Linked DNA regions of Homo sapiens. The protein of the gene in region 4 interacts with the protein of the main gene of each other region in a pairwise test. Each region holds a gene or a part of one and is shown on either strand. Other genes may lie near its edges.

Region 1 (8,194 bases), on a different chromosome or scaffold from region 4:
GTTGGTTGATCAAAACACTCAGCCAAAGAAATGAATAATTATTTCTTTATACTGTTCCCAAACACATAAAAGCTGGGTTCTGTGATGTCGGGAAGATCTACTCATCAGATGCTACAGAGACTAACACTTGGGGGGCATGCTGGCAGAGAGCCAGATGTTCACAGCTGCACATACCCCACTCATGACACAAAATATGTATATTCACCGATCTACAAAATGCTTTCATCATTGTGTTTAATAATTCCTTATCATCTCCAAAGTAAAATTAGATGACAAGTATTTGCCAAGGCACAACACAAGAGGGTGACACATGACTGTGACACTCTTTGTCTGCTGTGCACTTAGCCTCCTTTTAATTGTCTGTCTTCAGAGAAGTTAGAGCTATACCAAATGCAAACAGGATGGCAAACAAAGAGACCAGAGCAAAAGATCATTTTTTCACTTTCTAAATACTGGAAGTTATTAATTTACTCATTCTGACCTTGTACTTGCTCAACTTGTAAGCAGAAGACCTTCTTATAGAGTAAAATTTAAGTTGTTGCCATAAACCCCCAACTGCTTTAAAATAGCTCTTCTGCCTATAATCCTAGTGCTTTGAGAGGCCGAGGTGGGAGGAGGACTGATTGAGACCAGGAGTTAAGAGAGCTGCCTAGGCAACATGGTGAACCCCATCTCAAAAAAAAAAAAAAAAAAAAGTCGGGTGCGGTGGCACATGCCTGTAATCCCAGCAGTTCAGGAGGCCGAGGTGGGTGGATCACCTGAGGTCAAAAGTTTAAGACCAGCCTGGCTGGTAGAGACAGTGAAACCCTGTCTCTACTAAAAATACAAAAATTAGCCAGGCATGGTGGTGGGCGCCTGTAATCCCAGCTACTCGGGAGGCTGAGACAGAAGAATCGCTTGAATCCGGGAGGCAGAGGTTGCAGTGAGCTGAGATCATGCCACTGCACTCTAGCCTGGGTGACAGAGGAAGACTTTGTCTCAAAAAAAAAAAAAATTAACTGGGGGATGGTGGCACACGCCTGTAGCCCTAGTTGCTCCAGAGACTGAGGCAGGAGAATTGCTTGAATCTGCGAGTTTAAGGTACAGTGAGCTAGGACCATGCCACTGCACTCCAGCCTGGGTGACAGAGGGAGATCCCATCTCTAAATAAATAAAAAACAGTTATCCTTCCCTGCAGCCTGCTATGGTTGCACTGTTATTTCATACTTCGCCTGAAAATTTTACTCTTATAGTTATCCTTTGCTGTAGAGAACAGTTTTTTGGCTGGGCACGGTGGCTCACGCCTATAATCCCAGCACTTTGGGAGGCTGAGACCGGGTGGATCACTTGAGATCAGGAGTTTGACACCAGCCTGGCCAATATGGTGAAACCCTGTCTCTACTAAAAATACAAAAATTAGCTGGGCGTGGTGGCGCATGCCTGTAATCCCAGCTACTAGGAAGGCTGAGGCAGGAGAATCACTTGAACACAGGAGGCGGAGGCTGCAGTGAGCCAAGATCACACCACTGCAGTCTAGCCTGGGCGACAATGAGACTTCATCTCAAAAAAAAGAAAGAAAAAAAAGAGAAAAAAAATAGTGTTTTTTTTCTTTTTTTGCTCCAGAAAGCAACTATTTAAAGATACATAATAGGCCAGCATGGTGGCTCACAGCTGTAGTCCCAGCACTTTGGGAGGCTGAGGCCAACAGATCACTTGAGGTCAGGAGTTCGAGACCAGCCTGGCCAACATGGTGAAGCCCCGTCTCTACTAAAAATACAAAAAATTAGCTGGGCATGGTGGCGGGTGCCTGTAATCCCAGCTACTCAGGAGGCTGAGCAGGAGAATCACTTGAATCCAGGAGGTGGAGGTTTCAGTGAGCCAAGATTGCACCACTGTGCTCCAGCCTGGGCAACAGACTGAGACCCCATCTCAAAAAAAAGAAAAAAAAGATACCTAATATATGTTCTGGGACCACACGGAGGCCCTCTCCAGAGCTGAAAGGAGAAAATATCGAACCATAAATGCAGTGAGAGAAGAGTAAGGAGGAGAAGGCTGATAGCCCTGGGGGTCGGAGGCGGGGAGTAGGAGTGGCTGGCCGGCCGATGGAAGGGAAAGTCCTGGATGGAGTATTTACACATTCAGTTTGTTCCTGCAGTAATATTTGTGGATACAGGTATTGTGCTTGGTGGCATGGTCCTTGCCCTCCTGGAGTTTATAGCCATGCTGTGGGACTAGGGCTAGCATCCATTAAGAGGTCTCCCGGAAGTAGACCAAGTATTCAGGCAGGTGAAGTGGGGAGAAATCGGAAAAGAGCCATTGAGGCCAAGGGAACAGCGCAATCAGAAGACCTGAAGCACAAAAGAGCTCCCTGTGATCAAGGAACAGGCACAAGGCCCATATGTGGCTAGAGCCCAGTTGGCAAAAGTGGTTCAAGATCAGGCTGTAGCCAGATCCTGTAAGGCCTTGTTGCCACACTAAGGACTTTGAACTTCCTCGTGAAAATGAAGAGAAGTCGTTGAATAGCGCAGGTCTGACAAGATTTTAAGAAGTTTCCTTTAGTTGCTGTGTGGGCAGTGAATGGGGGCGTAAGGAGAGCCTAAAGGAGAGACTGCTTGAAGGGTTATTGCAGGAGTCAAGGTGATAGCTGGTGGCAGGTTAAACTGGGAAAGAGGGGTAGAGATGGTAGGAGGTGGAGAGATTAAGGACACCATTTAGAATTGGAAACAACATGGACTGGAAATGAAGAATAAAGGAAAGAGTGGTGTCAACGGTACAATTTAAGTGTCTGGTGTAAGCAACTGGGTAGAGAGTGGTGCCAGTTACTGAAGGTGGGGACACTGTAGGAGAAACCCACTTGGGGACCAATTTTTTTTTTTTTTTTTTTTTCAGACAGAGTTTCGCTCTTGTTGCCCAGGCTGGAGTGCAATGGCGCAATCTCGGCTCACTGCACCCTCGCCTCCCGGGTTCAAGCGATTTTCCTGCCTCAGTCTCCTGAGTAGCTGGGATTACAGGCATGCGCCACCACGCCCGGCTAATTTTTGTATTTTTAGTAGAGACGGGGTTTCTTCATGTTGGTCAGGCTGGTCTCCAACTCCCGACCTCAGGTGATCTGTCTGCCTTGGCCTCCCAAAGTGCTGAGATTACAGGCATGAGCCACTGCGCCCGGCCGGGGACCTATTAAGTATGAAAAAGTGTGAGCAGGCCGGGTGCGGTGTCTCAGGCCTGTAATCCTAGCATTTTGGGAGGCCGAGGCGGGCAGACCACTTGGGGTCAGAAGTTGGAGACCAGCCTGGCCAACATAGAGAAAACCCGTCTCTACTAAAAATACAAAAATTAGCCGGGGCGCATGCCGGTAATCCCATCTACTCAGGAGGCTGAGGCAGGAGAATCGCTTGAACCCGGGAAGCGGAGGTTGCGGTGAGCCAAGATCGCGCCACTGCACCTGAGCCTGGGCGACAGAGCGAGACTCCCTCTCAAAAACAAAAAAACCCCCCAAATGAGTAAAGAGTAATGTGGATATTATATTATAAACGAACAAACAAAAAAGGACTTCGTATTCTTTTTGCATAGGGAAGGGGAAGAAATGTGGAGTGGAAGAGGATGGTACAGAAAAGGTGTAAAAAGAAAGGCTGTGGGAGGAGTAGGGTAGGAGGGCTTCTGAACTGGGGTTAGTGTCACACTGTGTAACTGATAATTTAAACTGCTGAAAATGAGACCACACTTAAAGATACAGGTCCCTTTAAAAGGAAGGCGGATGTTAAAAGCAATTTGCATTTTACCTAAAATGGGCTGCTTCTCCCTGTACCCTCTCCAAATACAGCCAGACTTTCTGTAGAAACATTTTAATCATGGGCACCCTTCCCCCGAAAAATCCACTCACTACCAGTACACACGACCTTCTGAGTTTAATGGACCTACGGAGGCCCATCCCTGGGCTCTCTGGGCTAGGTTAATCCCAGGTTAGGCCCCAAGCTCAGAGGTAGCAACGTTCCCAGCTCAACGACGCAGGAAGACCACGCCTCTAAATGTTCTGCAACCTCGTCCATTTCAGAATTTTCCGGGGTTCTGGGTAAACTGGCCTCACCAAGGATTCTGCCCCGTCTTGTTGCTCCCGTTTTTAAACACAGACCGGTGTGTGGGAGAGGCCATTATTTTTCCGGAACACTGTGCTCCTGGAGCAGATAGGGACACGCAGAGTGGCTTTACCGCAGCGCCAGCTTCAGCCTTACCCGGCTCCTCCTCCAGGCCACCGCCTCCTCCTCGCGCCCAACCCGCCTTCCCTGCTCACCCCCGGCCCGCTCCTCCCCTTTGCTCTCAGCGCGGACTCGGCCACTCACTACCGGCGCCGTGTTCCACCCGCCCACCGCATGGCCCCGTCCCTATGTCGCTGGTCTCGCCCCCTTCCAGGAGGGCCCAATGAGCGTTCACATGCGCCACAAGGCCCCGCCCCGCACCGCGCAGCCCCGCCCACAGGCTGAGTTAACCAATTCGCGGCCCCGGGCCCCGCCCCGCCCGCAGGCCCCGCCCCGGCGCCCGGCCCCACGCGCCCGCCTCCCTCCGGGGCGTTGCCGCCGCCGCGCCTCAGCAGCCCGCGCGGAGCCAGATGCCGCCCCCTCCGCCGGTCCCTCCCCCGGCGGCCTGGCGCCTCCCTCCCTCCCCACCGCGGTGACTCTCGGAGCGGGAGGCGGAGGCTGAGGCGGCCGCTCCTGCTGCTGCTACTGCCGCCGCCGCAGCGGCTGCTCGGGCTGAGCACGCCCCGGAACAGGCCGCCGCGCGCTGCGCGCCGGACCCGCTGCCCCTGCCGGCCCGGCCGGGTCGGGCGGCCCAGGTAAGCGCCGAGGCCGGGCCGCGCCTGCACCGCCCGGGCCCGCGCCGCGCCGCGCCGGGGCTTGGGGGAGCGGCCAGCCCTTTGTCTGCCGGGGAGGGGCCGCGGAGAGCGCCCCCGACCCCGCTCGGACCCCTGACTGCCCCAGCGGCGCGGCGCCCTGGTCTGGGCCTGGCCGCCTCTCGCCGCAGACCACCTCCCGCCTCCCTGACTCTTCGCCCGGGGGTCGCCTCCACAGGTGTCCGCGCCGCCCACCTTGTTGCTCACCTCACCGCGTCCGGGTGCCTGTCATCGCCCGTCCGCCCTCCCGACCTCTGGGCCCCTGCCTCTTCCCTCACCTGCGCCCACTCTGAGACTCTTACTCTCCATATTTCCCCAAACTAAACGCTGGGCCGCCCTTCCTCCCTCTGTAGTTTGATTGAACTGTCGTCTCCCGATTCCACCCCTCCCCGGTGAGCCTTCCTGGAAGGTACCTGGTGGGGGCACATATCTCACCTGGATGGCGGGCGTGTATGCACGAACCTGCAAAATTAACCACCTGGAGCCCCAAACTGCACCTCTCACCTCCTTTTCATCACCCCACCCCAACCACCTTCCTTTTTTTGGAACCTGGTAACCGAGACACTCAGGTCTGGACACCCAGCCTCTGCTAGGCCCTCCATCCCTCCCTCTGCCTTGTGAGCTGAACTTGTCTGAGCAGTGCCTGTTGTCAGGTTAGCCCCTGGGAAGGCGGCGGGGGCCGTGTTGGCCGCAAATCAAGAGTTTTATGAATAATGAGACGTGTGGCTTGCACCACCTCCTGTCTGAGGATCTCAGTATGCTCCAGCTGTGAATTATTTTGTCTCCTGTCACTCACAGAACTGAGAGGAACATGTCTGGCCAACTGCTGGGTAAATTGAGGTACAGGGTGTGTGGGTAAGGGACCTGGAGGCAAGTCATGGTTTGTCTTGAAGTTCTGTTCGCAGGAGCCTTGGCTCTTAGCTCCCTGCTACAACCACTGGGCTCCAGTTCCTGGAGTGTGTCCCCAAGTGATAACTGATCTCTTGTGCCATTAAAATGTCCAGAGATACCAGCAGCTTCCTCAGATTTAAAGTAGGACTTTGGATCATAAATAAAGGTGCGGGCTGTTAAATGCCAATGTGTCATTCACGGTTTGCTGGGGGAGTTCGTGGTCCTCCCTTGTAAATACAAATCACCTCTATGGGATGGAGATTCATTCATTCAGTAGTGAGCATTTACTATGTGCCAGGCACCGTTCCAAGTACTGGGGCTTTAGTGGTGAAGACAGACACGGTTTCTGCCCTCCTCAGAGATGACATTTTAAAGAGGAGGAAAGTCAGACAATAAGTGAGTAAACAAACAAGTGGACAAAATAATTTCAGTAGTGGTAAGTGCTATGAAGATGGAGAGGGGCCAGATTACATATAAGAATCTGTGGCCGGGCGCGGTGGCTCACGCTTGTAGTCCCAGCACTTTGGGAGGCCGAGGCGGGCGGATCACGAGGTTAGGAGATCGAGACCACGGTGAAACCCCATATCTACTACAAATACAAAAAATTAGCTGGGCGTGGTGGTGGGCACCTGTAGTCCCAGCTACTCGGAGAGGCTGAGGCAGGAGAATGGCGTGAACCCGGGAGGTGGAACTTGCAGTGAGCCGAGGTCACGCCACTGCACTCCAGTCTGGGCGACAGAGCGAGACTCCGTCTCAAAAAAAAAAAAAAAAAAAAAGAATCTGTGGATCAGGGCGGACTCAGTGGTTCATGCCTGTAATCCCAGCACTTTGGGAGGCCAAGGCGGGCAGATCACGAGGTCAGGAGTTCGAGACCATCCTGACCAACATGGTGAAACCCTGTCTCTACTAAAAATACAAAAATTAGCTGAGCGTGGTGGTGCATGCCTGTAGTCCCAGCTACTTGGGAGGCTGAGGCAGGAGAATTTCCTGAACCTGGGAGGCGGAGGTTGCGGTGAGCCGAGATTGCGCCACTGCACTCCAGCCTGGGCAACAGAGCAAAACTCCGTCTTGGGCGGGGGTGGAGAAAAAGAACCTGTAGATCAAAACAAAGATTTTGTAGGTCGTAATAAAGAGTTTGGATTTTATTCCAAGAACAGTTAGAGGCCATTGGAGGGTTTTAAGCAGAGAAAGAATAAAGTCTGATTTGTTCCAAAAGATTGTTCTGGCCACTGTGTAGAGACTGGATTCTAAGGAGCAAAGGTGGAGGCAGGAATACCAGTTATGAGACAGACTATTGCAGCTGCCTGGCAAGAGATGATGGTGGCTTGAGGGATCGGGGCAGTGGCAGTGGAAACGAAGAGGTGGAATCAGTCTGTTCCCTCTGGGAGAGCTGCAAAGCAAAACTTTGGAGACTGAGAGTTAGATGTCCCATAACAACGTGCTCACAGAACAGGTCCCCGCCTCCTTGATTGGAGAGGGTTTGTGGGTTTAAAAACCAGTTAGAGGTGGAGGAGGGCATAATACACTGGGTTTCATTCCCACATCCGGTTGTATTGTTTAAATGGGAACATTACTGCCACTGTTGGAAGATGTTGCACCAGGAAATTGGGCCTGTTCTCATGGTAGGTAGGAGAATGTTTCAGTGGCCACAAACTTGAGCTATTAATGAGAATGAGGCCAGGTGCAGTGGCTCACCCCTGTATATGCCAACATTTTAGGAGGCCAAGGCGGGCGGATCACCTGAGGTCAGGAGCTCAAGACCAGCCTGGGCAACATGGTGAAAACCCGTCTCTACTAAAAATACAAAAATCAGCTGGGCATGATGGCGAGTGCCTGTAATCCCAGCTACTCGAGAGGCTGAGGCAGGAGAATCGCTTGAACCAGGGAGGTGGAGGTTGCAGTGAGCCAAGATCGTGCCACTGCACTCCAGCCTGGGCGACGGAGGAAGACTCTGTCTCAAAAACAAAAAACAAAAAAACTCCCCAAAAAACAGAATAAAACTTATCTCCATGCTGCTCCAAATCTGTGCTGTCAGAACATGTCAGAATGAGAGGACCTTGGGGGTTACACAGGCCAGCCCCTTCTTTTATGGTTAAGCGTCTGTGTCCCCTAGAAGCTGGCTCTTTTGAAATCTTATAGCAGTTTATGCATTTTCTTATGATGCCTGCTAGTTTCTACCCCATTTCATCTCCATGTGTACACATGTGACTCTAAGCTTTCTGAGGCCAGAATCTCTACTGGGTTTGTCTTTGCATCGTCCACAGTGTCTGAATCAGCGCCCTGCACAAAATGTAAACTCTTCAAATATTGGTTGACTTGCCTGGGCATCTCATCGCACCAAGACTCCTGCCCCTGCCCCTGTCTTTTCATCAGACCATGCTTCTTGTAGACTCCTCATCCAGGGTGCAATATAGTGTAAACCCAGCAGTGTCTTGTTCA
Region 2 (7,636 bases), on a different chromosome or scaffold from region 4:
ATACTCAGCTCCTCCCAGATTTTCTCCTCAGGGGCACAGTCGCCCTCTATTGCGATTATGGCCAGGACGATTATCAGGAGGCCTGTCTTGGGCATGACCTGATTGTCGCCCAGCAGGCCATCGTAGGAGAGGCCCAGGCAGGTGACAAGGATGTACAAGTGGCTGATGGGGACCACTTCCACCACCTCGATGCCAAAGACCAGCTGCAAGTACTCGGAGGCTTTGCTGAAGATCACGGGAAAGAAGTCCTGGCAATTTCTGAGGACACTCTCCAGCATTTCTGCCTTTGTGACCGGCTCCCTGGCTCGATACTTGAGGAGCAGAAAATGAACCAACTCAACCATCTTCCTACTGATTGCTGCTTGGAACTCGGACTCCAGGTCGGGAAACATTCTTGGCCCCTCCTCTTCTTGGTTGCTGGAGCCCTCATCGGATTGTCTCCAAAGAGTGTAGTTGATGGTAGTCGAGAAGCTGGAGGCTCCCTGAGGACTGTGGGGAGGACTCGGTGAGTCGGCAGCAGGCACCTCCCCCAGGGTAACTTCCACTAGAGTAGAAGAGGAAGAAGCGGTCTGCTGCTCCTCAGTAGCAGGAGCCTGCGCACCCACCAGGCCCAGGGCCTCTCCTCGGGCCTCAAGGCCTTCTTCAGGCTTGCAGTGCTGACTCCTCTGCTCAAGAGGCATGATGACTCTGGTCAGGGCAGCAGGCAGGAGTGCGGGCAGGAGCTGGGCAATGAAGACCCACAGGCCTGGGGAGAGAAGGAGCGTGTGTGAGGCCTTAGGTGAGAACTGAACTGAACCTTGGAGGCTCTGACAAAGGCTTACTTACAGATCTTCTCCTTCAATGCTCCTCCAGTGCCTCGGGTCCTACTTGTCAGCCTGTCCCCCTCAGAACCTGAAGGAGGAAGTGGGAGGGCACCTCAGGGTACAGCCGGCCAGCACATGCTCAGGCTGCAGGACTGAGAATAGGGAGGGTGAGGCCAGGCCCTCTGGAGTCCCATTTGTTCTGGGCGGGTGGGGCCCTTGGTGTGCATTCCAGGCAAACCTTCAGTGTTGGCACTGTCTGCGTCCCCTCTGCTCTGTGACCTGAGGACACTGACTCAGACCAAGGCCTCACTGCCTGGTTCCTGGAGCTCCTGATTCCTGGGAGAGGAATGCACGGGCCTTCAGTGTGCAGACTGCAAGCACAGCCACGGATTCCCAGAAGTCTCAGCAGGGTTGGCCAGACTCCGTGAGGTCCCCACTCTACTTGGGTGGAGGGTCCCCTCTGTGCTCACTCAGGGCCCTCACCTTTCTCCTTGTAGGGCCTAATCCCACCCTTTTGCTGGCTTGAGAATCTCTCATGTCAAGAACTCACATCCCTGATATGGTACAGAAGGAGATGAGGGGACCCACATCTGGCCATACGTGACCAGGTCCTCCCGCGAAGGACAACGAGAGATGTCCAAATTCATTGGAGTCCAGGTGTCCTGGGTGACGAGTCCGCTTGGTCCTCACGTCCACTCCTGGCAGGGCCTGAGACCCTCCCTCTACTGACCTGACTCCAGCCCCTTCAGACCAAGGCCTCCCCTTCCCTGACATCAAAGATCCCAGGATAATGGAGGGACTTCAGCTGACAGCCCTGCCCAGGGTCTCTGAAGTAACCGCAGGGGCAGGGCAGATTTCTATGGGGCCCCCTGTCTGCATTCTGGCCCAGGAGTACCCTCAATCCTACCTCAGGCTCTCCACCTGGATGCTTGGCAGATCCTAGAACCACTGCATCTGTCGACCAGATGGGGGCCCCTGTGTTGACCTGAGTCACCTTCTGAAAACAAGGTCATCAACTCCCTGAGATCTGGAAACAGAAGTGAGGAGGGGCCACATCCTGTTACCCCCACGTGCGTTGTCCAGGGCTGACCCCTTTGGTTCTAGGGTGAACGTTATGATGGCCTCCTGTGGGTTACTCATCTTTACTCCTGCCAGGGACTGCCCTTTCTCAACCCCCAACCCCCTGAAATGAGCAGACAGCTCCTCTTTACACCAACACCTTATCTCCCTGAGGGTTCCCCAACCTCCTGCCTGTGGTACAAATGAGATTGTCACTTAGGGCCATCCCTGATCAGGTTCCCCCAGAGCTAAGAACAAGGGACGGCCAGACTCTGTGGCATCCCTTCTTTCTGGGCCGGGGGTATCCCCAGTCCTCATGAAGGGGGCACACCTTGGGTCCGGCAGATCCTGGGATTCCTCCCTCTGCTGACCTGAAGTCCCAGCCCTCAGACCACAGCCCTCAACTCTCTGTCACCCTGAAGGTGCAATGAGCACGGGGCACATTCGGCCACTGTGCCCAGGATCCCCCAGCCCAAGGTTGCCACTGATCTGGACTCCAAGGTCCCCTCAGTCCTCCCTCTTCTTCCTCCCCTTGACTCCTCGCAGGGCTGGGCCCCAACCCCCTGCTGAAGTGGGTCTGCATCCCTAGGATTCCCGCGGCTGAATGAAAAGGTGGCTCAGTTTGAGACAGGGGTACAGTGGGCCCCCTGTCCTGGCATGCTGGGTCCCCTAAGGACTCCACTGTCTTCCAGGAGGGCCTGGGCCCTTCCTCTGCATCCCAAAGGCCATACTCACGAGACCCAACCCCTTCCCTCCCTTAGCCGTACATGTGAACGTCAGGATCCGCGTGCTTGGCCGCCATTCCCGGAGCTTCCGTGGGTTGATTGCAGGGGCAAAGCCCGGATTCTGCCAGGATGGTGGTGGGGGAGGAGATGGGAATGGGGTTTGGGGGTGGGGTTGGTGTTTGAGGGATGGGGGTGGGGTTGGTGTTGGGGGATGGGATTGGTAGTGAGGGTAGGGGGTGGGTTGCCCTCAGTCCCCTCTTGGGGTCCTGACCTTGATTCCTGGCTGAGTCTGGGCCCTGAGCACTTCTAACCAGCCCTGCCCTGGTCACACAAAGCTCTTACGCCAGAGTTCCCTGCGGTTAAAGCGGCGGGGGGTGGCGGGGTGAGGTGGTGGCGACTCAGCCTGAGAAGTCTTCCCCTGCAGGGTGGTCCAGGCCCGGCAGCAGAGGCAGCGCTGGATTATTGGGGGCCCTCTGTCTGGGGTGAGGCCCGCCTCAGTCCTCCCTCGGCGTCTTACCTTGCCTCCTCACGGAGCCTGCGCCTGCTTCCCTCCGCCGACGTCAGGCCGTTGCTCAGGGCGAGAATCTCGCTGTCCTCTGACCTCCAATGCGCAAGTCAGTGGCGTCACATCCGGGCCCGTGACTTCCCTGGGTTCACGGCAAGGGTGGAACCGGATTCTGCCCGGATGGGGATCTGGATGGGGGGGTGGGGGTAAGCATGAAGATGGTGTTGGTGTAGGGGTAGGGATTGGGACGGGGATCCTGAGGCTGTAGATCCTGGTGGGGTCGGGGGAGTTGGGGGTGGGAGGGGCCTTTGGTCATCCCTCAAGGTCCTGACTTGGATGCCAGACTGAGCCTGGACCGCCATCCTCTGCCGATTGTGTTTGCTCCCCTCAGACCAAGTCTCTGACTCTGAGTCGGCCCGAAGTGGCATTGGGGGGAGGGGTGTGCTCGGGGTGAGATCATTGCCAGTGTGTACCAGGGCTGACAAGAGGGGCTGAGCTGGATTCTGTGGTCCCACTATGTGGGTGAGGGTGGATCCTCAGTCCTCACTCAGGAGGGTCCTCTTCCTCACTCCTGGCTGTTTGATGAAGGAATGGGTGGGAGATGCTCTGTTTCTGTCACCTCTGAGCATCTGCGCATCTGCGCATCTGCACCCCTTGTAGAGAATGGCTGCGGGTGCCAGGCCAGGTGCTCCCTGCAGGGCAGGAGCTCCCGCGATGATAGTGACCTCTGGGAGAAGACGCACACCTTCCCACGGGGGCTCCTCCCCAGCCAGAGCTACACTTGGCAAACCTTTGGTCCTAAATGATTTATTCTCTGAATTGAAGAAATACGGTTTACATATCTTCTAAGTATATATGTAGGTAGCAATATATATATTTATTTCTATGAACTAACACCTACCCTTAGTATGCATGATTCACTCTGATATCCTAGTCTACTTCCATTCCAGTCTTTGTGTTCTGTTGAAAGAATTTTTTTAAAAAACATAATTCCTCTCCCACTCTGTTGGTTTCAGGTTGTTATTAGCAGAACTCTGGAGCCATGCTGCCTTAACAAACCCAATTTTCCTGGTGGACACTGCTATTACCTAGGGCTCTTGGCATCGTGTTTTCAGGGGCTGCCTCAGATTGTGCAATGAAGTGAAGTGGAAAATTCAAAACTTTTATTCTACCCATTCTTTCATCTGCCGTCTAGGCAGGCTACAAACCTCCCCAACATCTCTGCCGCTAACCCCCTCCAACAGACACTGCAAGTGTCACACACAAGTACCAGCTCAACACAGTCTCCAGTCTCACTCTGGGCTTTCCCTGTTTTGTTGTGTAGATTTTCTTGCTGATACTGGTGTTTTACTTTCTGTTTCCATTCTATAAATTTACAGGGTTGATTTGGGAAGCAGAGCACAGCAGCCCAAATTTGCTTGTAATGTCGGCGGCTACAGGTAAGGCACTAAATTGTAAATAATTTAAGCTGAGTTTACATTTTTACACTGTTGTGTTCCCCGTGAATGAATATGTTATACTCCTCTATGGATTTCAAGCTCTTTTTTCCTGAATATGTCAGTATACTTCGGTAGTTGCCTCTATAAACAACTTATACATTTTTATTAGGCTTCTATTCAGGTAATTCTTGGATTTTGTTGCTATTGCAAGTGGCATATTGTCTATCAATTGTTGTAGTTAGTTATTGCTTTCGTGAGGTGAAGATTTTGATTTTGCTGTAGTAATCTGTTGCACACCTCGTTCTGAAGGCCGATGCACTTGAATATTCCGCATACCTTTTCCTTTGAATTTTCAAGATCGATAATGGTATTATCACTAAACACTACATGTTTTTCCAATGTTCATACCACTCACTCATTTCGGTACTTACAGCTCTTTGTGTCTCAATCCTGATTTCAAATGTAGAGATAATAGGCTACATCTACTTCTCGTTCCTGACTTGAATGATAATTCTTCGAACATTTGACATTTAAGTATGTTTGCTGTTGATTTTAGGAAATGGAAGTTCTCTTTCAGTATAGGTTGCCTAAATATTTTCTTTTTTACCATGAATTCATATTAAATTTATTTAAAAAGCTTTTTCTGTACCCGTTGGCAGGATCAAATTTTTTTCTCTTCCATTTTGTATGTAAGGAATCACAATGAAACAGATGTTTTTTCTAATGTTAAATCATATTTTATTTCCTTGGGCAGAGCCTGTTTATTCGTTTAATGTACTACTAATTTATGTAGGATATTTACTGCTGTGTAAGAGAGCTTACTTGATGTGTTCTTTTTCCATCAGGGGAGGTATGTGGTCCTCATCTGGTTTTTAAATCCAGGAGGGCTAGCCTGGGAGAATGAACTGAACAATTGTCAGTCTTTTGTATGTTCTGGAAGAGTTGATATAAGGCGGTGGTTAGTTTTCCCTGATCATTTGGTAAAATTGGCCTCCAAAGCTGTCTAACCTGGAATGTTTGAGGGTGGCTTGAGCTTTGAATATTGTACAGTTTCTGTTGTATAGTTAAAGTTTTCTTTTCCTCTTTGGATCAGTTTGGTTACTGATTTATTTTATTTCTACAAAGTGGTCAGTTTCATTTAGGATTTCACTTTTAATGGCATATTTATGATAAAAAAGTTTTATTAGGGAAAGCCTTCACACATACAGAATAACAGGAACGAATATAATGAACCCAGGATACTTGATACCGAGCATGAACATCTTTAAATACACAGCAAATCTGGTTCCAGTTAAACACTCGCCTACCTGCATATGAGCTGCTGGAATAACGTGGAGTAAATCTAAGGCATTAGACCATTTCATCTCTAAATAACTTAATATGCATTTTTAAAAGATAAGGATTTTTTTAAAACAAAAAGCCGATAGTTTTCATATCTAAAAAATTAAATAAATGATTATCAAATGTTCAACTATGTTACACACTTATCTGGCCAACTTAAACTTTATAAAATATATATTTCTTTGATGGAGTACAAAATGTGTTAACTTTTCCCCCCACTTGCTTCATTGTGGTGGTTTCATATATCTATTATACAACTAGGTGTGTGTGTGTGTGTGTGTGTGTGTGGAACATTCTACCTGCCGTCCCGTGATTCTCCAACCTCTTAAGTTACTTTTAAACTTTACATACATTAAGCTTCACTCTTTGTGCTGTAAAGATCTATGGGTTTTGACAAATGCCTCGTGCCATTGTCTTAGTCCGTTTGGGCTTCCATAACAAAAATAGTGATAGACTGGGTGGCTTATAGACAACGCAACTTTATTTCTCACATTCTGGAGGTTGGGAAGTCCAAGATCAAGGTGCTGGCAGATTTCATGTCTGGTGGAGTCCTGCTCCCTAGTTCATAGACAGCTGCCTTTTCCCTAGATCCTCACATGCAAGAAGGGATAAGGGATCTCCGTGGAGTCTGTTTTATAAAAACACTAATCCCATTCATGAGGACTCTGCTCTCATGATCTAGTCATTCTCCAAATACCCCACCTTCTGCCTAATACCATCACCTTGGTAATTCAGCAGATGAATTTTGTGGCAACACAAATATTCAGACCAAAGCAAGCACGGAACCACCATTGCAGTATTATGCATACCAGTTTCACTGCCCTGATAAATTCCCTTGTGCTTGTCGGATAAACCCCATGGCCACCACTGATAGGTTTTTCATCTTTATAATTTTGCATTTTCCAGAATGTCATATAAATAGAATCTTATACTATGTAGCCTTTTTAGACTGGTTTCTTTCACTTAGCATAATGAACTGAAGAGTCATGTATAACTTTGTGTGGCTTGGAACTTATTCCTTTTCATTGAGGAGTAGTATCAATGTCTGGTTATATATATATATATATATGTATATATATATATATCCATTCACCAAATGAAATACATTTTGGATGCTTCTATTTTTGGTGATTATGAAATAAGCTATTGTATACATTCATATACAAATTTTTATGTAGACATAAGTTTTCAAATCAATTGGGTAAATTGATTGAGTATGGCTGCTGAATCTTGTGCTAAGTCTATTTTCATTTTTTTAAGAAAACGCCAAACTGCCTTCCAAAGTGGCTGTGCCATTTTGCATTTCTACCAGCAATGAAGGAGAGTTTCCGTTGCTCCACATCTTCGCTGGCAATTGTTCTTGGTCTTGTATTCTTTGTTTTGGTTTTCTATGGATTTTGGACATTCTGATAGGTGTGCAGTGGTATCCCATTTTAGTACACAATTATCTAATGCCAAAGGGTGCTCAGTACTTTTATTATGCTTATTTGCCATGTGTATATCTTCTTTTGTGTAGTGTGTGTTCAGATCTTTGACTATTTTCATTTTTTCTATCATTGAGCTTTAAGAATTCGCATATATTGTAGAGACAAGTTCTTTATCACATATGTGTACCGCAGATGTTTTCTGCTAGTCTGTGGCTTCTGTTTTCATTCTCTTAACATTGTCCTTTGAAGAGCATAAGATTTTTATTTTAATAAAATCAACTTGGCAAATTTTTCTTTCCTTGATCATGCTTTTGGTGTTGAATTTAAAAACTCATCA
Region 3 (7,710 bases), on a different chromosome or scaffold from region 4:
TCACAGAATCATGAATAAATAAATAGTGAATAAATAGATTTTGAGGTGGTGTGTTGCAGAGCAACAGGTGCCTGATACACTGCACAAAACCAACTTACTCTCTTTATACCAAAGTTTTGAATGCAAACTTTGCCTTTATATTGTTTTTCAAACTCTTGTTCATAATCCATTAATGAGTGATAAAATCAATGAAGTGTGTTACGACCAGCAATTCTTTAAAAATAAACTAGTATTGGCTGGGCACGGTGGCTCATGCCTGTAATCCCAGCACTTTGGGAGGCTGAGGCAGGTGGATTACCTGAGGTCAGGAGTTCAAGACCAGCCTGGCCAACACGGTGAAACCCTGTCTCTACTAAAAATACAAAAATTAGCCAGGTGTGGTGGCGGACGCCTATAATCCCAGCTACTCATGAGGCTGAGGCAGGAGAATCGCTTGAGTCCGGGAGGCGAGGTTGCAGTGAGCCGAGATTGTGCCACTGCACTCCAGCCTGGGCTACACAGTGAGACTCTGTCTCAAAAAAATAAAATAAAATAAAAATAAACTAGTATAAAGTGCATCACATGTAAAATGAGTTATTTCATTATAATATGTATATGAGAATAGACATATTTACATACACATATGCACGTATTTATATGTATTCTGGAAGGAAATATAAACTGCATCTCAATATCAGTTATGGTTAAAAAAATGTGAAAGTTATTGTCTCTGAATATGGACAACCTCAGAGATTATAAAGTTATATAAGTTAATCATTGTGGAGAAATTACAGTAACTAAATACGCAAATCTAGGTTAAGGTACCCAAAATAAATTTTACAAATTCCAAATTTCAAGATTAAAAATTTATTTGGTAAGATTTAAATCAATTTTAATGCATAATTAGTAAGAAAATAACATGAATCATTAGAGACAATTTTAATTGATACATGATTTATAGTCACCATATACTAAGCAGAAAGTTTTCTTCACTCACCTATTACCATATTCAAAATATCATCATTGTCATCTACTAAAGGGTCCATGCAAACCATGTCCAGCAGTTCCATTAACTGCTTTTGAAGAGAATAGGCCTCCTTGAAAAGAGCCTGGAGAAGGTCTGAAACTAGGTGTAAACACCCAGAATACACAGATTCACTATTCTGATTACGGATAAATAAAAATGAGAGAAAAAACAAATCAAAGCTCAAGAGCCAAATTTACTTTAATTCATACTATTAGAGATCATAAATTTACTGAATCACATATTCATTCATTGTTTAGTGAACATCCATTAAATATAGTGTGCTTCAAGAGATGCAAGCATGTATAAAATATTATTTCTGACTTCCATGATCTTGCAAATACAGAACTAAAAAAGGGTAACATTAGGCCAGGTGCGTGACATTTTTAGCATCCTATCAGCAAAGAGAGGTATTAATTAACTAGTGATTTTCATTCGCCCAACAAATAGCAATATTAAAACTGTCTGTGACCCATAAATTCTAGGCAAGCTTTTGTGCCTCAAGGCTACCTCTGGCATGTAGAGATGGACTAAATAAGGATTAACTTTCCTTTATAAAAGGAAGTTCTGACATCTAATCATAATGGTAATTGAATATTGGTCAATGCAACATGACATAACTATTTCAGGATCCCTGTGTCTGTCTCAACACAAATTCTTAAAACTTCTTTCTTTATAGAGGGGAAATAAGATAAAACTAAAAAACCCCAAAAAGCCACTTTTAATGACTTCCTTAAAACCACTTTTTTTGCAACAATTATTTACTTACATGTTCTTTATTCTATGGAAAAGTTTATTTCAATAATATAGACTAAAATGTAAAATCTTATACAAACATTATTTTACTCAGCCCCTATGCACATTGATTATATACCATTCAAAGTATAATTAGACCTTTACTCACCTTACAATGCACAAATGTGCTTTTAATTATATGAAGGACTGAGGAGGGGAGACTCTGAATATTTTCCAAAATGATGGATTCCTGTGTGGCACAGATATGCTGAACACATCCTGTGAGAGCTCCTAAGAGCTGCACCATTGTCTGTGAATAAGGAAGGAAATTTCACTTAGAATATATTTTTTGTGCACTGAAAAGGTATTAGTCAGCATGCTGGGTGCTACAAATACAGCAATGAACAAAACACAGTCTCTTCCTCTTTTCACAGAACTTTAGTCTATCAGAACTACAAATACTGGAACAACTGTCTAGCCATTTAGAATACTAACACAAACTTCAAAACACATGGCAGGTGTTCCACACATATCCTTGAAAATACAGGTAGGGTCAGCTAGCTTGATGACTTCTCTTCTTATAAGAGTTTATTATTCAGAATTCATGTTTCTATATTCACGTCTTTAATTCTATAAATTTAATTCCAACATTAGGCCATTACATAAGAATACATAGCTAATCAGTATCAGTATAAAAATTTTGACATTCTTTAAGCTCCCTCTCTCTCCTGCTTTCTAATACATTTGACTTACTTGTAAAATATTCCTTAGAGTGGTCTGGATTTCCAAATTTTGGCTTGACAGTCCTCTGGCTTGACTGGTTAATTCATACATCATGTCATCGAATAATTTCACAGTCTGTAAAAACAAATCAAGTAATAAACAGGAATAAGAGAAATCACTAGAAAAGACAAGACAAAACTTTACAGAGAAAACACAATACGATAATTTGATTTTGCACTAGTAACATCCACAGGCTATCATCTAGCTTAACAATTGTACCTAATTAAGCACAAAATACAGAGAAAAGGTATTTTTACAACATAATCCCCCCAAAAGCCCCAAACAGAAATTTATTTTCCATTTCTATGGTTTGAATCTATTTAATAGCATCAATTTTTTTAAAAAATCACTCAAAGTTCATGTTTTAGAGATGCAAAAAATAAAAGTATTACTTTCGCACAATAAATTTGACTGTCTTGAAGAATCCACATTCATACAGTCATTTACAAGGGTATTTTCTGGAAGGAATTTGCACTGAATCGCCTATTCACTACTCACTTATTTTCTAACCAGTTTCCTTTTGACCCAATTCAAGCTAACCTTCCTGAATTAAGGGTATAGTAAATGACCTTACAAACAAGCTTTTTGTCTGTGAAAAGTTAGCCACCCTAGATCTTAATACTTGGATCTTTCTAACAATTTAAATGACCTAAACATTATAAGAATAGCAACACAGTCAACAATACAATGTAGCTAAAGAAAATACTGTTTCCCATAGGCCTGTTAACACTCAACATCCATTTTCATCTATGTAACAGTTGAATCTTTTTCTGGTGGTCAAGAACAAATTCTAAGAAATATTTCAGATAGAGAATCATCAAGTGACTATGAGTACAAGAAATTTGAAAGATTACGATTCAAAGCTAAAGTTAGAAACCCATTTCAATAAGAGATTAATTACAAATAATGTTTCATTTTGGCACCAAAGTATCTTTAGTTCCCTCCATTTAAAACAAAAAAGGTATGCTTGTGCTTTTCAGAGAAAACATATACCATATATATCTAAAATGTAATAATGTATTCTGTGAATTTAATGTTTTCTCTTAGTTACTTGATTTTGCCAATATTCCAGCTTTTCTTTTTTTTTTTTTTTTTTTTGAATTAAGGGTTTCACTCTGTCACCCAGGCTGGAGTACAGTGGCTTTAAAATACAAGAGCATTTAAAATTGACTACAAATAATTTAAATTCAGTTAGTAAAGGAACCACACAATCTGAAAATATAAGTTCTTTTTTTTTTTTTTTTTTTTTTGAGACGGAGCATCGCTCTTATTGCCCAGGCTGGAGTGCAATGGCACGATCTTGACTCAATGCAACCTCCGCCTCCCAGGCTCAAGCAATTCTCCTGTCTCAGTCTCCCAAGTAGCTGGGATTACAGGCACCTGCCACCATGTCCAGCTAATTTTTTGTACTTTTAGTAGAGACGAGGTTTCATCATGTTGACCATGGGTGGTCTCGAACTCCTGACCTCAGATGATCTGCCCACCTCAGCCTCTCAGAGAGCTGGGATTACAGGCATGAGCCACCGTGCCCAGCCTGTAACAGTTTTTAACTGCCTAATGATCACACTAACACCATTATAGTCTCACATGAGATCTACTTACTCCTTATTTTTATTTTGAATATATTTGATATATTAGAAAAAGAGAGCCATAATTAATAATAAATCATCTAAGACTGAGGCTAGATTCCTTATAACATGTATTTTCAGGTAATAGTATTATACCTTTGGTAACACTTGTGAAAAGAAAGTCTGTTCCAATGTCAGGTGGTTCATATGAGGTAAAAACATTTCTACAATAATTTTCAAAATTTCTGTAAAGCAAATAACAAATTTTATAAAAATATTGTCATGTCAGTCAACAAAGGCCACTGCCCTTTATTAAATGCAAGAATACTACCAATCTAAAGCTTGATACACTTTCAAAATACCACATTCTATACAGAGAAACTATTAAGTAGTAGCCAAAAAAAAAAAAAAAGAGAGAAAGGAAACGACCTACATATCCAACAATTGTGGACCAGTTAAATAGGTGTGTGTACATCTATTGAATAGGATCTGCCATCATTAAAATGACATTTTAAAACATGAAAAATGTTCACAATGTAGTTAAACAAAAAGTTTCCAAAATATAACACCAATTTTAATGTAGATAAACATGTACGAAGAATGATGGATAGGCTGGCAGGAATATACGGAAATGAGATGAGACTGTTCTCATCAAAATCTTAACCATTTCAGATTAGATGTTTTGTAATCTTTTCTGTTTTTCTATATGTTTCATATTTTCCACAATGAACATGAATCACTTCTATACTCAAGATAAAAAAATAATTTACTTAAAAAAAATTATGCCACGCATGGTGGCTCACGCCTGTAATCCCAACACTTTGGGTGGCTGAGGCGGGAGGACTGTCTGAGCCCAGGAGTTAAAGACCACCTGGGAAACATGACAAGACCTCATGTCTACCAAAAAATAAATATATAAATAGAAAATTAGCCACGCATGGTAGCACGCACCTGCGGTCTCAGCTACTTGGAAGGCTGAGGTGAGAGGATTGCTTGAGCGTGGGAGATGGAGGCTGCAGTGAGCTAGCTATGTTCGCACCACTACACTCCAGTTTTGGTGACAAAGCAAGACCCTGTCCCCCAAAACAAACAAACAAAAACACAGGCCAAGCATCATGGCTCAGACCTGTAATCACAGCACTTTAGAAGATGGAGGCAGGAGAATAGCTTGAACCCAGGAGTTCAGGCTGCAGTGAGCTATGATCGCACTACTGCTCTCCAGCCTGGGCAATAGAGTGAGATCTTGTCTTGAAAACAAAACAAAACAAACTCTGGGGCCAGGCTCAGCGGCTCACGCCTGTAATCCCAGCACTTATGGAGGCCAAGGCAGGAGGATCACTTGAGCTCAGGAGTTTTGAGACCAGCCTGGCCAACATGGTGAAACCCCATCTCTACTAAAAATACAAAAATTAGCCAGGCGTGGTGAAGCATGCCTGTAATCCCAGCTACTTGGGAGACTGAGGCAGGAGAATCACCTGAACCTGGAAGGTGGAGGTTGCAGTGAGCAAAGATCACGCCACTGCACTCCAACCTGGGTGACAAAACGAGACTCCAACAAAAACAAAGGAAAAAAAAATTAGGTCCCATTACACAACGTAGATTCAAATTATAAATGAATATTCCACAACCAAGTGAACTCTAAATAGAAAAGCTAACTCAAAATATGAGTAAACTGAGCAGTCTAAACTCTCTTCTGACTAGAAGAATGAATCTCATCAAGTAAGACTGATGAAGACATGAAAATGAGAAAGTCAACTTCCTCCAAATGGTAAATTTGTTATCACCTAGACAATCAGCTTTTGGCAATTTAGAAAGCATTTTCTAAATGACACTAAACATGTTAGAGGCTGATAGCTATTCAGTAGACTGCATATCATGTTTTATATAGGTCTAATCGTAACAACTAACGTTTAATATTTACAATTTGTTTATACATACATCATCAACAAAACACTTTGGTATTTATCCAAAATGTAATTTAAAACTTTTAAGTGCTGGAATTTGAATGAATTTGTTCATTTCAAGTAACTGAAGGTTATAAAGGCTGTAACATAGAGAACAGTTACATTTCAAGGGAATACAAAACTGTAAGAACACATCTACCGAGGTATGTGGGGACTCGGACCTTAACATCAAAGTACATCATACAGTTAAAACAATTTTACTTACGAATATGCTCAATCCAACTGTCAGAATGTTGAGACAATGAGTAGGATAATTAAGGAAGATACTAGTATCATAGTAATAGGGTATTCATTACTCAGAACAAACCTAAAAAAAAAATAAAACCCTTTTGAAATTTAAGCAATGACTCATAAGAGATTGGAATTGGACTCAAATTACTGGCTTAATTTTGCTTTTAAAAACTTAAGATTTATTAGGTAAACAGTATTGTGAAAACACATTAAAGAAATATTTTGAAAATTGCCCAGGGACAAACTTGCCTTTTCAAACTATGCATAGTCATGAAATATTTTTGACAGATGAGAAACAATGCTACAATAATCCACAGGTTTATGATTTATTTATTTATTTTTTTTTAGAGAGAGGGTCTCGCTCGGGGCCAAGTGGGGTGGCTCACACCTGTAATCCCAGCACTTTGGGAGACCTAGATGGGCGAACAAGAGGTCAGGAGTTGAAGACCAGCCTGGCCAGTATGGTGAGAACCCGTCTCTACTTAAAATACAAAATAATTAGCTGGGCATGGTGGCGCACACCTGTAATCCCAGCTGCTCAGGAGGCTGAGGCAGGAGAATCACTTGAAACTGGGAGGCAGAGGTTGCAGTGAGCCAAGATCGCGCCATTGCACTCCAGCATAGGCGAGACTCCGTCTCAAAAAAAAAAAAAAAGAGAGACGGTCTTGCTGTCACCCAGGATGGAGTGCGGTGACATGATCACACCTCACTGCAGCCTCAAGCTCCTGGGCTAAAGTGATCCTCCCATACCAGCCTCTCAAGGAGCTGGGATTAGAGATGCACACCACCATGCCCAGTTTGTACTTCCGATTTCTATTACAAGAAATTTTTCTTTCCTCAACATTTCTATTGTACTTAATTTATACCTAAGTCACTCATCACCTTCTATCTTTTTTCATATTACTTACATACCTATCTTACCAACTTTATTTGACTGAAATTCTTCTGCACATAGCAGCTTACAAATACACGACAATAAATTCTTCATATACACCATCAAGAATAATTGTTAGAATAATTGTTAGAAATGTTTTACTGTAACAACACCATAAGAATCATCAAAGAATGTTAATAAGAAAAATGAATAACCCGGCCGGGCACGGTGGCTCACGCCTGTAGTCCCAGCACTTTGGGAGGCTGAGGCAGGCGGATCACGAGGTCAGGAGTTCGAGACCAGCCTGGCCAACATGGTGAAACCATCTCTACTAAAGATACAAAAAATTAGCCGGGCATGGTGGCACGTGCCTGTAATCTCAGCTACTCGGGAGGCTGAGGAAGGAGAATCACTTGAACCTGGCTGCTGTGAGCTGAGATCGCACCACTGCACTCCAGCCTGGGTGACAGGGTGAGACTCCGTCTCAAAACAAACAAACAAACAAAAAAAAACCCATAGTCCTACCACAGTAATACAAGAATTCATTCCTCT
Region 4 (7,710 bases):
AGGTATAGCATTTAAATTATTATTATTATTATCTTTAGAGACAGGGTCTTGCTCTGTTGCCCAGGCTGGAGTGCACTAGTACGATCATAGCTCACTACAGCCTCCAACTCCTAGACTCAAGCAATCCTCCCACCTCAGCCTCCCAAATAGCTGGGACCATAGGCACATGCCACCAAACCTGGCTAATTTAAAAAAAAAATGTTTTTGTAGATACGGGGTCTTGTTTTGTTGCCCAGGCTGGTCTTGAACTTCTGGTCTCAAGGGATCCTCCCACCTCGGCCTCCCAAAGTGCTGGGATTACAGGAATGAGCCACCATACCGGGCCTAAATTATTTTTAAATAAAGTGTCTCCTAATTGCAAAATCCAGGGACAGAAAGAGAAATATTATTTATTTATATGAGGGTAAACATGTCTACTTCTGCCTCTGTCATCAGAATGTCAGCTCATGAGGGCAAGGACTTGGCCTTTTTTCAGTGCTGTATCCCCAGGGTCCATTCAACACCTGGTGGTGGAGTAGGTGCTTAGTACTGGTTAAATAAACAAATGAATGAAATAGGGCACTGCCCTTAAAGGTACTCACAGGGCTCAGACCCAGCTCTGGTGCTTCACAGGCAGGCAGAGCAGTGCCTGGGGCAATGAGCTACACAGACAGAAGCTCTTTCCCTTCTCTGAAGCTTCCATAATGTCATTGTCCCTCCTGCTAAACCAGATAGACAGTCTTGGAAAAGCCTCTTCCTTTCCTTGGGCCTGTTTCCCCATCTAAATTCTGCACAGCAAAAGAAACTACCATCAGAGTGAACAGGCAACCTACAAAATGGGAGAAAATTTTTGCAACCTACTCATCTGACAAAGGGCTAATATCCAGAATCTACAATGAACTCAAACAAATTTACAAGAAAAAAACAACCCCATCAAAAAGTGGGCGAAGGACATGAACAGACACTTCTCAAAAGAAGACATTTATGCAGCCAAAAAACACATGAAAAAATGCTCACCATTACTGGCCATCAGAGAAATGCAAATCAAAACCACAATGAGTTACCATCTCACACCAGTTAGAATGGCAATCATTAAAAAGTCAGGAAACAACAGGTGCTGGAGAGGATGTGGAGAAATAGGAACACTTTTACACTGTTGGTGGGACTGTAAACTAGTTCAACCATTGTGGAAGTCAGTGTGGCAATTCCTCAGGGATCTAGAACTAGAAATACCATTTGACCCAGCCATCCCATTACTGGGTATATACCCAAAGGACTACAAATCATGCTGCTATAAAGACACATGCACACGTATGTTTATTGCGGCATTATTCACAATAGCAAAGACTTGGAACCAACCTAAATGTCCAACAATGATAGACTGGATTAAGAAAATGTGGCACATATACACCATGGAATACTATGCAGCCATAAAAAATGATGAGTTCATGTCCTTTGTAGGGACATGGATGAAATTGGAAATCATCATTCTCAGTAAGCTATCACAAGAACAAAAAACCAAACACCACATATTCTCACTCATAGGTGGGAATTGAACAATGAGATCACATGGACACAGGAAGGGGAACATCATACTCTGGGGACTGTTGTGGGGTGGAGGGAGGTGGGAGGGATAGCATTGGGAGATATACCTAATGCTAGATGACGAGTTAGTGGGTGCAGCGCACCAGCATGGCACATGTATACGTATGTAACTAACCTGCACAATGTGCACATGTACCCTAAAACTTAAAGTATAATAATAATAATAATAATAATAATAATAAAAGTTTGGGACAAAAAAATAAAAAATAAATAAAATGCAGCTTATGAACAACATGTGCTTGCGAGTTCCTCTCACATGTGGCTCTACAATCTTAGGAAGCAGGAAATCAGAAGGGGATTGATGTTGCCTCCATCCATTGTCCCTGGTGTCCTGTCCTGAGCCATTTGTAGAGGAGAAACTCATAGAAGAGAGATGCTCCCTTCTGTTCTTTTAGGGCAAAATCAATGGTTTAAAAAAAAAAAACAAAAAAAAACCCTAAGGAATCCCCCCCATCCCAAATTAAGGAGTCACCTTATATTTATTTCCTGTAACAATCATTAATTGTCTACCTACCAGTCACTCGTTTTTTGGAACAAATATTTATTGGTTGTTCTCTGTGCTAAGCACTGTGCTAGGCACTGGAAAAACAATGTTAATCCAGACAATGTCCCTGCCCCTAAGACATCTAATGGGGCCATAATAGGCAAGTATAGAATGCCATGGCAATAGAAAGAGGGACACATAGCCCATTCTTATGAGGGACAGGGAGTCTTTCCAGGATGTCCACAAGACACACTGGAATCATACAGGTGAGAAGTCAAGGGCAGTTCGTTCCAGGCAGACAGAAGAGTGTGCAGCTGGAGCGTCAAGTGCCGGGGGAGATGTGGTAGAAGGGGTTGGCAGCAGCCAGGCCATGGAGACTTGTAAGCACTCAAAGGCAAAAGTGACCCAGTGAAGAGTTTCAGCAAGGGCTTGAGTGGTCAGACCTGACCTTTTAAAGATTTACTCTGGCAGCAATGGGAAGAACATGGGGCAAGGCATTTGCAGAAAGATGATGCCTGCTAGTTTACAGTCTGACTGGGGAGACAGGATGCTGACCCAGGAAACTGTCAGTGATGTCAAACAACACATAAATGGCAGAATACATTTAAAAATTAAGTACCAAACAACCAGTGAGAAAAAGCTTAGAGTTCAGAGGAGGAATAGGTAATTGTATATGGCTCCAAAAAGTGCTCTGAAAAAGAACCAAAGGAGGCCAGAATGATCAGGGCTAGCGGGCCCAGCGAAGGTGCAGGGCTTCAACTGAGTCTTCAAAGATGGGCAGGATGTGGTGAGAGAGAGAAGTGATGAGTGAGTGTGCTTTGGGAAAGGGACAGTGACTAGGAAGCAGAGATATTCAACACAAGCCACTGAGGCATCTGTCTTCAGTTCCCATGGGGAAGCCACTACCATGTCAGTCCAGGGCTGATTCCTGGGAGAGCCACAGACCAGACAGGCATCAGCAGCCCCAGAGAGACACTTCTAGGGGAAGGAAGTGTGCCAAGATCTGTGCATGCTAAATGGACGACATGGCCATGAACATTTAAATCAACGTCTCTGGGTGGGTCACTTCTCCCGTTACCATGGCAACAGGGCTGTTATAAGGAAAAAGCAGCTGCTGGCCAAAAGCTACTACTGCTGGCTCACTGCAAAGCTGAACCTGTTTGCTCCAATTCACCAGTGGGGCTTAATTATCTCAAAAAGCTTCTGTGCAAAGATTCTAGACTTTCCTGGAGGGGCTTTTAGATGAAATGATGATTGCCCCTCTTCTCCCTCCAATCCATGTCTGCTGTTACAGTCTTCCTTAAAAATCAGACATGATCATGCAACTCTCCCATTAAAACTGTCCAACAGCTCTCCTGCTGCCTACAGGATAAAATCCAAACTCCCCGGCATGGCATTTATAGCATCTGCTAATGGTGTCTCACATCTAGCTTCATTTCCTATCACCTCTCGCCCCCATCCCTTGCACACTTCAGCCACCAAGCTTCTGCCCAGTCTCTGAACATACCACATATCAGGCCCTTGCACATACTGTTTTGTCTTTCTGGAATACCCTTTGCTACCTTCTTTCTCTGATAGATGTCACCTCCACAGTGAAGCCTTCCCTGATTCTTCCTCCCTTCCCCATCTCTTCTTCACCCAATTGCCTTTTCTTTAGAGGAAGCCTTGCTTTTTTATGTGCATAGCACAACTCTCTGCCCACACCTCTATGATAGCATGTATCATAGTGTAGTGTAAATATTTGTTTTTCTCCATTGTGCACTAAGTTTCCAAGAGGAAAGAACCAATACTTCATCTCACTGTAAAAGCCCAGCACCCAGGCCAGTGTCTGGCACACAGTGGGCTCTATTCTGTTGACGAATGACTAATGGCTGCCTGGATGAACTGCACATGTTAAGGGCACAATGTCTGGCTTGACAGAAATAATTCTGAGACAATATCTTTAAAGAGGCAACATGCTTATAGAGGTGCATTTTTTCTTGTTAATATTTAGCACACTTCCTAGGGGGAGGATTAAATGTCCTCTTCCCATTGACATCCAGCTTGGCTTGGTGACTTGCAGTGCTTTCCCTGTGGAAGAATTAGAACCTTGCTGTTAACTGCAGTAGTGCCCACATGCTTTGCTCTGACCAGTGAAACATGGGTGGAAGTAACATCTGGCACTTCCATGCAGAAGCTTTATGAACCAGCTCATGTTTGCCATTTGTCTTTTTCCTCTTCCATGAGACTGGCAATGTCCCATACAGAGGCTGCTCTGTCAGGCTGGGTCTCCAAGTGAAGACAGTGGGATGGCTTCAATCAAAATTTAATCTAATCATGATTGTAATTTAATTTAATCATGATTGTAATTTAATTATAATCATAATTACATTATAACTAAATTTTTCCTTAAAACAGCCCTGTTGCCATGGTAATGGGAGAAGTGACCCACCCAGAGATGTCTATTTAGTCATTCATGGCCGTGTCGTCCATTTGGCATGCACAGACCTTGGCACACTTCCTTCCCCTAGAAGCATCTCTCTGGGGCTGCTGATGCCTGTCTGGTTTGTGGCTCTCCCAGGAATCAGCCCTGGGCTCACATGGTAGTGGCTCCCCCATGGAAACTGAAGACAGATGCCTCAGTGGCTTGTGTTGAATATCTGCTTCCTAGTCACTGTCCCTTTCCCAAAGCACACTCACTCAACACTTCTCGCCACATTCTGCCCATCTTTGGAGACTCAGTTGAAGCCCTGCACCTTCGTTGGGCCCGCTAGCCCTGATCATTCTGGCCTCCTTTGGTTCTTTTTATAACGAAATTATAATAATGATTGTAACTGAATTACAAAGTTTAATTTATAATTATATGTTATAATTTATAATTCATAAATGAGGCACAGAGATTAACAATAAAATATAATAATAATAATATACTGTAATAAAATTATGGGAAAATGACCTCTCTCTCTCAAAATATCTTATTGTACTACACTGAGAATAACTGAAACCACAGAAAGTAAAATTGCAAATAAGGGGGACTACTGTACCTCTAAGTTCTAGCTGTGGCTCTAGCTACATGTATGAGCTTAACAAGTCCCTTCCCCTCTCTGGGCCTCGGTTTCCTTTTTAACAAAATAATGAAGTTTAGCTTTCTACTCTAACTCTGTAAATTTGTGCTAGGATTTTACTCCTTGCCGCTGTCATTTCACCCTTTTCCCCACCTCTACCAATTACATAGAATGGTTGACACTTTTGAAGTGTTCTTTTTTATTTGTCTTTTTTTAGGTTAAACTTACATACAATGATATACACAGGTCTCAAGTGGACCATTTGGTGAGTTTTGACAAATGCATACAGCCACATGTACCACGTCCCTAACAAGATATTGAGAGCACATTTTCAATACCCCAGAGAATCCTCTTGTACATCATCCAGTTAATCCTTTCCCTCTAGAGGCAAGCACTATTGTGATTTTTTTCCACCATGGACTAGTTTTATGGAATGGTTGGCATTCTGAACTCCTTGGCTCTTTGAGGTGTCTAGTTGTTCAGGTTGCCTATTCTTACACTCCTGAACTCCAGGCATGTGAAGATGAAAGAGAAATTCTTGGCGGGTTCTCAGGACACTCACCCATGGTTCTGCAAGTTCTCTAATTTTCTGAGCCTCTGAGTCACTGACGAAGTCATGGTAGAGAGCAATGTAGGGCTCCAGGTGGATGACCTCCTTCCGGATGGGCTGGAGCAGCAGGTAGGCGTTGGAATTGGTCTCATAGGAACAGTAGAGGCTAGGGATCTGGTAGAGAGTGGGCTGGAAGGAAAGAATAGGATGAGCATAAGAGAAGAAGGGTCTAGGAGCAAAACTCAACTTAGGGGAACTATGGCATAAAAAAATTGGAATGCAAGAGATACAGAATGTGGTCACTCTGATGCTGCCCAAGTGAGCTTTATTGTTTTTAATGCATCAGCTCTATCCCCTCATGTTATCCCAATTCTAGCTTCTCAAACTCTAGCCAGGCCTCTCCCCCTTTCTCTTTCCCTGAGGAATCCTACCTGGGAACCCAGGGTCTGACATAGCCCCTCGTAGGTGTCTCTGGTCTGCAGGTGGGGTATATTGGGCCTCTGGATGACAGCCTCAGCTACCACGTGGTTGGGGCTCTCTGCCAAGAGCCTTTCATATTTCAAGACATTCCTGGCCATCCTCTTATTATCTGGGCCTGGAAGAAATCAGAGCAGGGAATATAAAATAGGGATTAACAAATACTGGCCCCAGGGAGTGCCACCAAGGTTTCCTCCAGCTTCACTGCTGCACAGGATGGGCAAGTGGATCTCCTGAATAACTCCTCATGTCAACACACAGGAGGATGCAAGGCCCTCACTCCCAGAAGACTACCTGGTATTTTTTTAAAAGACTGACTTGATCCTGGTAGATCTGAAGGTGCAAAGGGTTTTGGGAAGCAAAGTGGAACTTAAAACTCTTAGGCCAAGGGATCATGAAGATGGCTGCTCTGGGATACTGTGATGGTATATATGGCGAAGATGAAGCCTCATTCATTCATTCATTCTTTCACCCATCCATTCAGTAAATCTTCAGTGAACATCTACTATGTACCAGATACTGTGCTACAGGTTGACCTCTCAGAGTTTAGAGTCTAATGGAGAAAAAGGACATTAAATTATCACTTACAACAAAATATGATAAGTGCAATGAAAGAGAAGTCCAGAAAGCCAAAGCCTATTGCAAAAGGACCCAACCTATTCTTCCCCAGAGAATTGGAAGCTAATTCATTCTTGGCTCCACTAGATCTTTCAAATCTCCTAACTGGCCTAGACCCAGAGCAAAGAAGTATGGCGCAGAGGGACTCTAGACTTTGGCTCTAGACTGGATTCCCACAGGGCCCTTGGGAAACCCAATAAATCTTGTGTCTTGTTTGTGCCCACCTGTTTGTACCCACTTTGGCTGCAAGATGCCCCATGCATTGGCAGAGCTACCCGTGGCCTGCTGGCCTCTTTGCATGACTCTCAATGCATCTCAGAAGGAGATGCTGAATTGTTCTAATGCTCCCAAAGCATCTTTCTCTGAGGAGCCCAGTGTGCTTCTAACCACAACCATCACCCTGGCAAAGGAGGAAAGGAAGGGGCAGAAATTACCATTCTGTTTTAACAAGAGAAGAAGTGAAGTTTTGGAGAATGGAAATTATAAGCCCAAACCCCAGTGAAAATATTGCAAAGCCGGAAATAAAACTGGGAATCTCAACTTGCCATGTTCTATTATCCACCTATAAAAGCACAAAATTTGAGTGGATAGCAAAGATTTTAATAGATCAAGTGCAAATAAATAAAGAAGGGTTGGATTATAATTTTGTTTGTACCACTAATTACTCATGTGTTTGTAGATACACAGCTACTTCCTTATCCTATTGTTTGCTAATTATCAGAAGGGAATAATGTTACTAAATGGATTCATTAAAAAGTTTTGTATACATGCAATTATAAAGTCCTACATGAAATACTTTATAAATATTAAAACAAAATAGTGATTTTGTATCTCATTGTAGTATCTAAATACTAAATACTCATGCCTGTAATCCCAGCATTTTGGGAGGCTGAGGCAGGTGGAACACTTGAGGCCAGGAGTTTGAGACCAGCCTGGCCAACATGGCAGAACCC

The links.
Region 1: the proteins of P4HA3 (region 4) and CTNNBIP1 interact in binary tests that used the Homo sapiens proteins (3 or more experiments, as listed by UniProt).
Region 2: the proteins of P4HA3 (region 4) and MAGEA2 interact in binary tests that used the Homo sapiens proteins (3 or more experiments, as listed by UniProt).
Region 3: the proteins of P4HA3 (region 4) and FIRRM interact in binary tests that used the Homo sapiens proteins (3 or more experiments, as listed by UniProt).

Annotation. Positions count from the first base shown.
Region 1 is NC_000001.11:9,906,708-9,914,901, reverse strand, and holds the start of CTNNBIP1 (beta-catenin-interacting protein 1), read left to right. Parts: upstream 1-4,632; 5' UTR 4,633-4,807; intron 4,808-8,194. UniProt on the Homo sapiens protein: Prevents the interaction between CTNNB1 and TCF family members, and acts as a negative regulator of the Wnt signaling pathway.
Region 2 is NC_000023.11:152,750,684-152,758,319, forward strand, and holds the start of MAGEA2 (melanoma-associated antigen 2), read right to left. Parts: upstream 3,160-7,636; 5' UTR 3,105-3,159; exon of another isoform or gene 2,859-3,104; intron 2,709-2,858; 5' UTR 2,630-2,708; intron 1,831-2,629; 5' UTR 1,711-1,830; intron 1,140-1,710; exon of another isoform or gene 1,042-1,139; intron 892-1,041; 5' UTR 826-891; intron 746-825; 5' UTR 681-745; coding exon 1-680. UniProt on the Homo sapiens protein: Reduces p53/TP53 transactivation function through recruitment of HDAC3 to p53/TP53 transcription sites. Also represses p73/TP73 activity. Proposed to enhance ubiquitin ligase activity of RING-type zinc finger-containing E3 ubiquitin-protein ligases.
Region 3 is NC_000001.11:169,797,507-169,805,216, reverse strand, and holds part of FIRRM (FIGNL1-interacting regulator of recombination and mitosis), read right to left. Parts: intron 6,361-7,710; 5' UTR 6,299-6,360; coding exon of another isoform or gene 6,259-6,298; intron 4,335-6,258; coding exon of another isoform or gene 4,312-4,334; coding exon 4,246-4,311; intron 2,597-4,245; coding exon 2,492-2,596; intron 2,049-2,491; coding exon 1,908-2,048; intron 1,143-1,907; coding exon 977-1,142; coding exon of another isoform or gene 969-976; exon of another isoform or gene 831-968; intron 1-830. UniProt on the Homo sapiens protein: Regulates PLK1 kinase activity at kinetochores and promotes faithful chromosome segregation in prometaphase by bridging kinase and phosphatase activities.
Region 4 is NC_000011.10:74,280,135-74,287,844, forward strand, and holds part of P4HA3 (prolyl 4-hydroxylase subunit alpha-3 isoform 1 precursor), read right to left. Parts: intron 6,258-7,710; coding exon 6,094-6,257; intron 5,852-6,093; coding exon 5,675-5,851; intron 1-5,674. UniProt on the Homo sapiens protein: Catalyzes the post-translational formation of 4-hydroxyproline in -Xaa-Pro-Gly- sequences in collagens and other proteins.